Linked DNA regions of Homo sapiens. The protein of the gene in region 1 interacts with the protein of each later gene in a pairwise test. Each region holds a gene or a part of one and is shown on either strand. Other genes may lie near its edges.

Region 1 (3,820 bases):
CACACTGAACATCTCACAGTGTTACACACCACTGTGGCGCCCAGTGTTTACTAGGTGCTCAGTAGGTGTTTATTGAAAGTATGGTTTGAAAGAAAAATACAACTATTATATATTAGTTTTTAAAAAGTGTTATGGAAGAAAAAGAATGGTTTGAGTTCTTTATGAAATCCACGTATGAATACTCATGAAATATCTGCTCTTGTACTTTGCGGGTATCTCAGAGGAAGAAAATGACCTTGTACTAGAAAGGATCTTTGATAGTTTAAAGACTGTATGGTAACGTCAACACAATAAGATATTGGTGCTCCTTTGGAATTAAAACTTCTGTGGCACTACAAAAAAACTCATTTGGCTTTAGGAGCCTTGTAATAATGGCATCTTTTAAAACCATTCTGGGGTTATTTAAAGTGATACAACCCACTTGGAGCAGAGCTAGGATTAAACTTTTTTTTTTTTTAACTAAAATACATTTTTAGCACAGCCTAACACAGAAGCCAAGTAGATAAAAGGGATGGAGATGGAGCCGCTCTGCTTGATGGAGATAGGGATTCACAACCTGCCTACTCACTAGCCCCCTTATTCCCTGCAGCAGCTTCCTAAGGCACTTCCAAGAAATCCCTAGGTTAGCTCAGAGGAGAAAACCACTGTTTTAGTAAAGGGACTCAGTGCTGGAGTCAGGATATCTGGGTTCTTGGGGAAGATTCTGCCCCAGAGTAAAGACAACTCTGGCCAAGTCCTTTCTCCTCTCTGGGGCCTCAATCTCATTGATTGTGAATAGGAGGCTGGGATTAGATGATCTTGGAACTGCTTTCCAGTTGAAATTCTATTTCTAGCCCCCTTGACCCTGGCCTTTCTTACTGGCCTGTATGGCCACCGACTCAGCTCTTCCTTATTTTCAGGACAACATCAACTTGCTGCTTACTGAGGAGGAAATGTATAGCCTCACGGAGACCTTTCAGCGGTGTAAAGTCATCCCTGGTAAGGTTGGGTGGTGCTGCATGGATGGAGAGGGGCCGGGCAGATTTCTCCTTCAGGCTTTCTAGAATGAACCATGAAAGGAGTGTTCCATATTTAGTGGGTAGAGGGTAAATGAGTCCTTGTTCCTGAGTTGTTGGCCAGCAGAGTCACCTATCCCTGTCACAGCCTGGGTGACCCTGGCCATGGGAGGCAGAGACTTAGCAAGAGCTGTGGGTTTGGGGGCCCCGAGGGTGCCCTGGAGGTGATGGAGGTGCCCTGAGGCTGAGGAAGGATGGGCATGGCTAGCACGGGGTGCCTCCCACAGATTGCTCCCTGACACTGGAGGACTTTCTGCGTTACCGCCACCAAGCAGCCAAGCGGGGGGACCGTGACAGGGCCCTGAGTGAGGAGCAAGAAGAGCAGGCGGCCCGCCAGTTTGCTGCCCTGGACCCTGAACATCGAGGCCACATAGAGTGGCCTGACTTCTTGTCCCATGAGTCCCTCCTGCTTCTGCAGCAGTTGCGTCCCCAGGTGAGGGCCAGTTGGGGCAAATGTTCCTGGGATACTGGGTGACAAGGGCCTGGGAGGCACGCTGGGCAGATTGGGGGAGCACTGGGTCCTGCTCAAGCAGGGACAAGTATCAGGAATGGGCTCAGGTTCCATCCAGTGACAGATGATCTGGTGCCCAGGCTGAGGAAACTGCGTGAGGAAGACTGATCTGCCCTGGGCCGCACTGGAAGTGCTGATGCCTCCAGAAGGGCTCTGGGCAGCTTCTAAGGGAGGTTGCAAAGGTGGTAATGGAGATAGGATTCTCTATGGCTTGGCAGTTTACAAGATATCTTCACCTCTAAGATCTTGTCTCTTCTTCCCCAGAACTCTCTGTTGAGGCTTCTGACAGTGAAGGAGCGGGAGCGAGCCCGAGCCGCCTTCCTGGCTCGGGGCAGTGGGAGCACCGTCAGTGAGGCAGAGTGCCGCCGGGCCCAGCACTCTTGGTTTTGCAAACGGTTCCCAGAGGCTCCTTCCTGCAGTGTCAGGTCTGCTCCTTACCAGTCCTGGTCCCCACTCAGCCTCTCCTCCTCCCTTTTCCATGCCAGTGGCCCTTCCATACCTCCCTGCTCCCCCTGCCAACAGCCGAGAGAGGAGCCTCCTGTGCATTAGGTAGAGGATGGTGATGCCTACGGGCCAGGGCATAGGACAGCCTCTGCCTTCAACTCGGTGTTGCCACATGTCAGAAGAGCCTGGATGAGCATGTCCAGAGCCTTGGGCTTACCAGAGTTTGGGAGGGGGCAGGCATTTCACTATCCCACTCCTAACCACGTGTCCTCATGCCCAGCAGCATCAGCCATGTGGGTCCCATCGCAGATAGCAGCCCAGCCAGCAGCAGCAGCAAGAGTCAGGACAAGACCCTGCTGCCCACAGAGCAGGAGTCCAGGTGAGTAGGACCTCCTCACCTGGCCATTTGTACCCTCTGAACCCCCACAAAACACACAAGTAAGAGAGGGCATTACCCACTCCCACTCCAAAACAGCAAGCGCCCACCCAAGAAACCAGGCTCCAAGAGTGCACATTTGACCCAAGTCTATAGGACCAGCCAGCTGGTCTGTTGGCCTGGTAGCACAGCCAGCCATAGCCAGGTCAGGCATGAGCCAAGCTTCCCTGAGTTTTGTGTAGCTCAAGCCATGCTGCCCCTGGGATCAGGGCTCACGCGTCTTCAAACCAGCCTCCTCAAGCCATGCTGCCCCTGGGATCAGGGCTCACGTGTCTTCAAACCAGCCTCACGACTCTGTTCTTTGCTTCCACTCCAGATTTGTGGACTGGCCTACCTTCCTGCAAGAGAATGTCCTCTACATCCTGGCTGCTCGCCCCAACAGCGCAGCCATTCACCTGAAGCCCCCAGGATAGCATGGAGCAGAGAAGCTCGGTTTGAGGACAGTGACATCCTCTCCCTCCTTTCCTTTCTCCCTTCCCCCACCAACCTCTGGCACAGAGACTCATGGGGTTGGGACACTGCCAGCGTCTTAACTTGTCACTAAGCTTTAAGGCACTGAAATCACCATTCCCCTCACAATAGAGGCAGTGAATGCATTGCCACAAGGAGAAGCCCTGGGAGCTGTGGCAGCATCCTCTCCTGGACCGCCCCTGCCCCACATCATAGACGGGACCTGCCACCACACTTATATACATGTGCACATGCTGCCCAGCTGTCCATGCCTTCAGAAGCCTGGTTCTTTTTGGTTGAGAAAGGACCAAAGTCCCTTTGTGAAGCCCCTGGTATAGAGGAGGGGGTCTCTACTCACCCCTTCTATAGGCAGGCCAGTTCTAATTTCCAATAGATAAGTCTCTGGCCAAGTGATTCTTAGGAAGGGGGCATGTCAGACTCGCATGCCTGCCTAGAGCTCCTGGAGATCCTAATGGGCCCCGCTTTCTCCACCAAAAATCCCTTCTGCAGTCAGCTGCTGTTACTAGTAGGTGTGCATTATGTACCTCGGCTGTACTGAGTTGGGAAAAGAGTTAAACATCACCACTGAAATTCAGCCCTTTATTTATTTAAATTCCAATTCCTGGTGACAGAAAAGGCAACTAGCCTGGAGAATCCTGACTGGAAGAGGGGGAGGCAGCCCTTCCCAGGGACTCGGGATTCTAGGAACCTCTCAGTCAGGTCACCTGAGTCCAAAAGTCTTTAGCAGGGTAGTCAAAAATCAAGGTGAGCCTTCTTGGCCCCATTTTTCAGATGGTAGCTCATGGCCTAGGGCCAAGGGGGCCTGAATGGAGCAAACACACTGGCAGGAGCCACAGCCCTCTGTGTTAGATGCTTCACCCAAGTCACCGACCACAGAGACTGACGAGAGCACACTCTGGAGGA
Region 2 (3,820 bases), on another chromosome or scaffold:
TTTCCTGGATAATGTCTCCTTTGCTGTAGATGCAAGTCATTTTTACTTTATCACTATGGAACTTAGTTTAAGTTGAGATCTATCTACTTACCCTGTGTCTCCTGACACATGATATATTTTCTTTCTTATGGGGGTGTAGTTTAACATGGTGATTAATAGCATGGGTCCTGAAGTCAGACTGCTTTAAATCCTAATTCCCATTTACTAGTTATAGCCTTGGGAAAGTTAATTTCTCTTGGCCTCAGTTTTCTTATCTTTAAAATGGAGAAAATAGAGCTACTCCTAGGATTGCTGTGAGGATTAAATATGGTAATAATGTAAAGCAGAACACAGCTTGGCACATAGTACTAGCTCCATGAAGATTAGCTATTCTTATTAAGTCAAAATGAATGTTACAGATTGTAGGTATTATGGAAATTATACCAAATTAAGCAGCTAGTGTGGGCCAGATTATTTACAGACACTTCAGTATTGTAATTCTTCCTTTGATAACCTTTGGTTTGAATTTCATTTAGATGTTCTTGGAAAGGGCTGGGCGTGGTGGCTCCTGGCTGTAATCCCATCACTTTGGGAGGCCGAGGCTGGTGGATCACCTGAGGTCAGGAGTTCGAGACCAGCCTGGCCAACATGGCGAAACCCCATCTCTACTAAAAGTACAAAAATTAGCCGGGCGTGGTGGTGTGCACCTGTAGTCCCAGCTACTTGGGAGGCTGAGGCAGGAGAATCGCTTGAACCCGGGAGGTGGAGGTTGCAGTGAGCAGAGATGACGCCACTGCACTCTAGCCTGGGTGACAAAGTGAGACTCTTTGTCTCAAAAAAAAAAAAAATAAAGTGTTCTTGGGAAGATCTTGGTATATCAAATTAGTGTTTAATTATGACATTCTATTGAAAAAATACCATGCAAAGCTTCCCAACCAATGTTCCAGTGCTTAGGATGGCATATAGGTGTGCTGTTTACAAATTTTTTATAGCATTGAAATTTTAAATCATTTTTATAAGTTCAAACTTTTACAACAGTTGAAATTACATTTGAACATCTTTGGTATGATTTCCTCTTGTATAATTCATGAATTTGGTAATTTGGTTATTTACTATTTAAACAATTAGAGATGGGGGTCTCATTATGTTGCCCAGGCTGGTCTCAAATGCTTGGCCTCATGTGATTCTCCCATCTCAGCCTCCCAAAGTGCTGGGATTACCAGTGTGAGCCACTGTGCCTACCCTACCATGAATTTGGTAATTTGAAAAAATTTTATTTGGTATAAATACTAAATTTATACCAATTTAATATTTAATATCATTTGTAATACTTTGTATTTTTTTCATGCCATAATTTCATAATAAGAAATTTTGTGTGTGCGGGTTTTGTTTTTGTTTTTTTTTGACCCCAGGGCAAGCAAGAAAATTTTTTTTCACCAAGCTCTTTCAGCTCACCCCAATGAGCCTTACAAATATTTTTAATGTGTGCCATCATGTGACAAAGGTTGGGAAGCACTGGTATAATGGATAAGAGCACTGCTTTTGGATTCACACAAAACTGAATTTAAGTTCTACCTCCACTTATTAGCTCTGAGACCCAGAGCAAGTAACTTAACCATAAGAATAATAATTTTTACATATGTAAAGCAGAGATGATGTTTCATAATATGAAATGAGATAATGCATGTAAAATGCTTCACATTAGTGCCTAGCAAATAAAAAATAGTAAGTGGTCACTTCTATTGATGATGATGATCGTGAGAATTACCATTTTAGCTACTTTTTTCAGAGGTTTTTCAGACAGCTGTTTTATTATTTTTCATATTAATATACTATTTTCAAAGATCTTCAAAGAATTTTAATATCCTTTTGTGGTGAAAGGAATTAAATGTTAGTCCTTTTTTTTTACTCATCACTGTACTAATGAAGATACTTAGTTTTGTAAATTATTGAATTATCTGCTCTCTGTATTTCTGTTTCTTGATAGTTTCCTTTAGCAGGTTCTGAGAAAACATAAAAAAAAACTTTGTTCTTTGGGATTTGCTGGTGGTAGTATGGCAAAAAGCCAGTTGCATGCAGAGAACTGGAATCATCTAATTTACTTAAACTCTATATTATACAGTTAATTATATTTAAATTGCTGCATATTATTGGCTGAATATGCTTATTATTGAGAATAAGACTGCCCTTTGGTAAACATGCCATTACATTATATCCTCCTATGGGATTATACCCTTTATTATGTTTGCCATTTGCTTGGGATAAGGTTCATGGCCAGTTACATTTCATGTGAGGATGCATCTGTGTTTCGGGGAAAAAAAGCTTTGTGTTTTATAAGCATGTATCATTCTTTGTGTCTTTTATTTAAATGCATTAGTCACTTTTTTAACATTTCAATAGGTTTTTGGGGAACAGGTTATGTTTGGTTACGTGAATAAGTTTAGTGGCAATTTCTGAGATTTTGGTGCACCCATCACCTGAGCAGTCTACACTGTACCCAATGTATAGTCCTTTATCCCTCACCACCTTCCCACCCTTTCCCCCGAGTCCCCAAAGTCCGTTGTATCATTCTTAGGCCTTTGCATCCTCATAGCTTAGCATCCACTTACAAGTGAGAACGTACGATGTTTGGTTTTCCATTCCTGAGTTACTTCACTTAGAGTAATCGTCTCCAGTTCCATCCAGGTTGCTGCAGATGCCATTATTTCATTCCTTTTTATGGCTGAGTAGTGTTCCATGGGTGTAGAGGGGTGTGTGTGTGTGTGTGTGTGTATATCACATTTTCTTTATCCACTCGTTGATTGATGGGCATTTGGGCTGGTTCCATATTTTTGCCATTGTGAATTGTGCTGCTATAAACATGCGTATGCAAGTATCTTTTTTGTATAATGGCTTCTTTCCTCAGGGTAGATACTCAGGAGTGAGATTGGTGCATCAAATGGTAGATATACTTTTAGTTCTTTAAGGAACCTACACACTGTTTCCCATAGTGGTTGTACTAGTTTACATTCCCACCAACAGCGTGAAGGTGTTCCCTTTTCATCACATCCACACCAACATCTATTTTTTTTTTATTATGGCCATTATTGCAGGAGTAAGGTGGTATCACATTGTAGTTTTGATTTGTAGTTCCTGATAATTAGTGATGTTGAGCATGTTTTCGTAAGTTTGCTGGCCATTTGTATATCTTGTGAGAATTGTCTATTCAAGTCCTTAGCCCACTTTTTGATGGGATTGTTTTTTTCGTGCTGATTTGATTTCCTTGTAGATTCTGGATATTAGTCCTTTGTCAGATGTATAGATTGTGAAGATTTTCTCCCACTCTGGGTTGTCTGTACTCTGCTGATTTCTTTTGTTGCTCAGAAGCTTTTTAGTTTAGTTGAGTCCCATTTATTTATTTTTATTTTTGTCTTTGCATTTGCTTTTGGGTTCTTGGTTGTGAAGTCTTTGCCTAAGCCAATGGCTAGAAGGGTTTTTCCAATGTTATCTTCTAGAATTTTTATGGTTTTGGGTCTTAGATTTAAGTCAGTAGCCCTATACACCAACAGCAACCAAGCTGAGAATCAAATCAAGAACTCAACCTTTTACAGTAGCTGCAAACAAAAAACAAACAAACAAACAATACTTAGGAATATACTTGACCAAGAAGGTGAAACACCTCTACAAGGAAAACTACAAAACACGGCTGACAGAAATCATAGATGATACAAACAAATGGAAACACGTCCCATGCTCATGGATGGGTAGAATCAATATTGTGAAAATGACCATACTGCCAAAAGCATATCTACAAATTCAATGCAATTCCCATTAAAGTACCACCATCATTCTTCACAGAACT

The links.
Region 2: the proteins of PHF24 (region 1) and GNAI3 interact in binary tests that used the Homo sapiens proteins (3 or more experiments, as listed by UniProt).

What each region holds. Positions count from the first base shown.
Region 1 is NC_000009.12:34,975,253-34,979,072, forward strand, and holds part of PHF24 (PHD finger protein 24), read left to right. Parts: intron 1-899; coding exon 900-978; intron 979-1,282; coding exon 1,283-1,488; intron 1,489-1,830; coding exon 1,831-1,991; intron 1,992-2,290; coding exon of another isoform or gene 2,291-2,293; coding exon 2,294-2,389; intron 2,390-2,762; coding exon 2,763-2,859; 3' UTR 2,860-3,820.
Region 2 is NC_000001.11:109,551,351-109,555,170, forward strand, and holds part of GNAI3 (guanine nucleotide-binding protein G(i) subunit alpha-3), read left to right. Parts: intron 1-3,820. UniProt on the Homo sapiens protein: Heterotrimeric guanine nucleotide-binding proteins (G proteins) function as transducers downstream of G protein-coupled receptors (GPCRs) in numerous signaling cascades.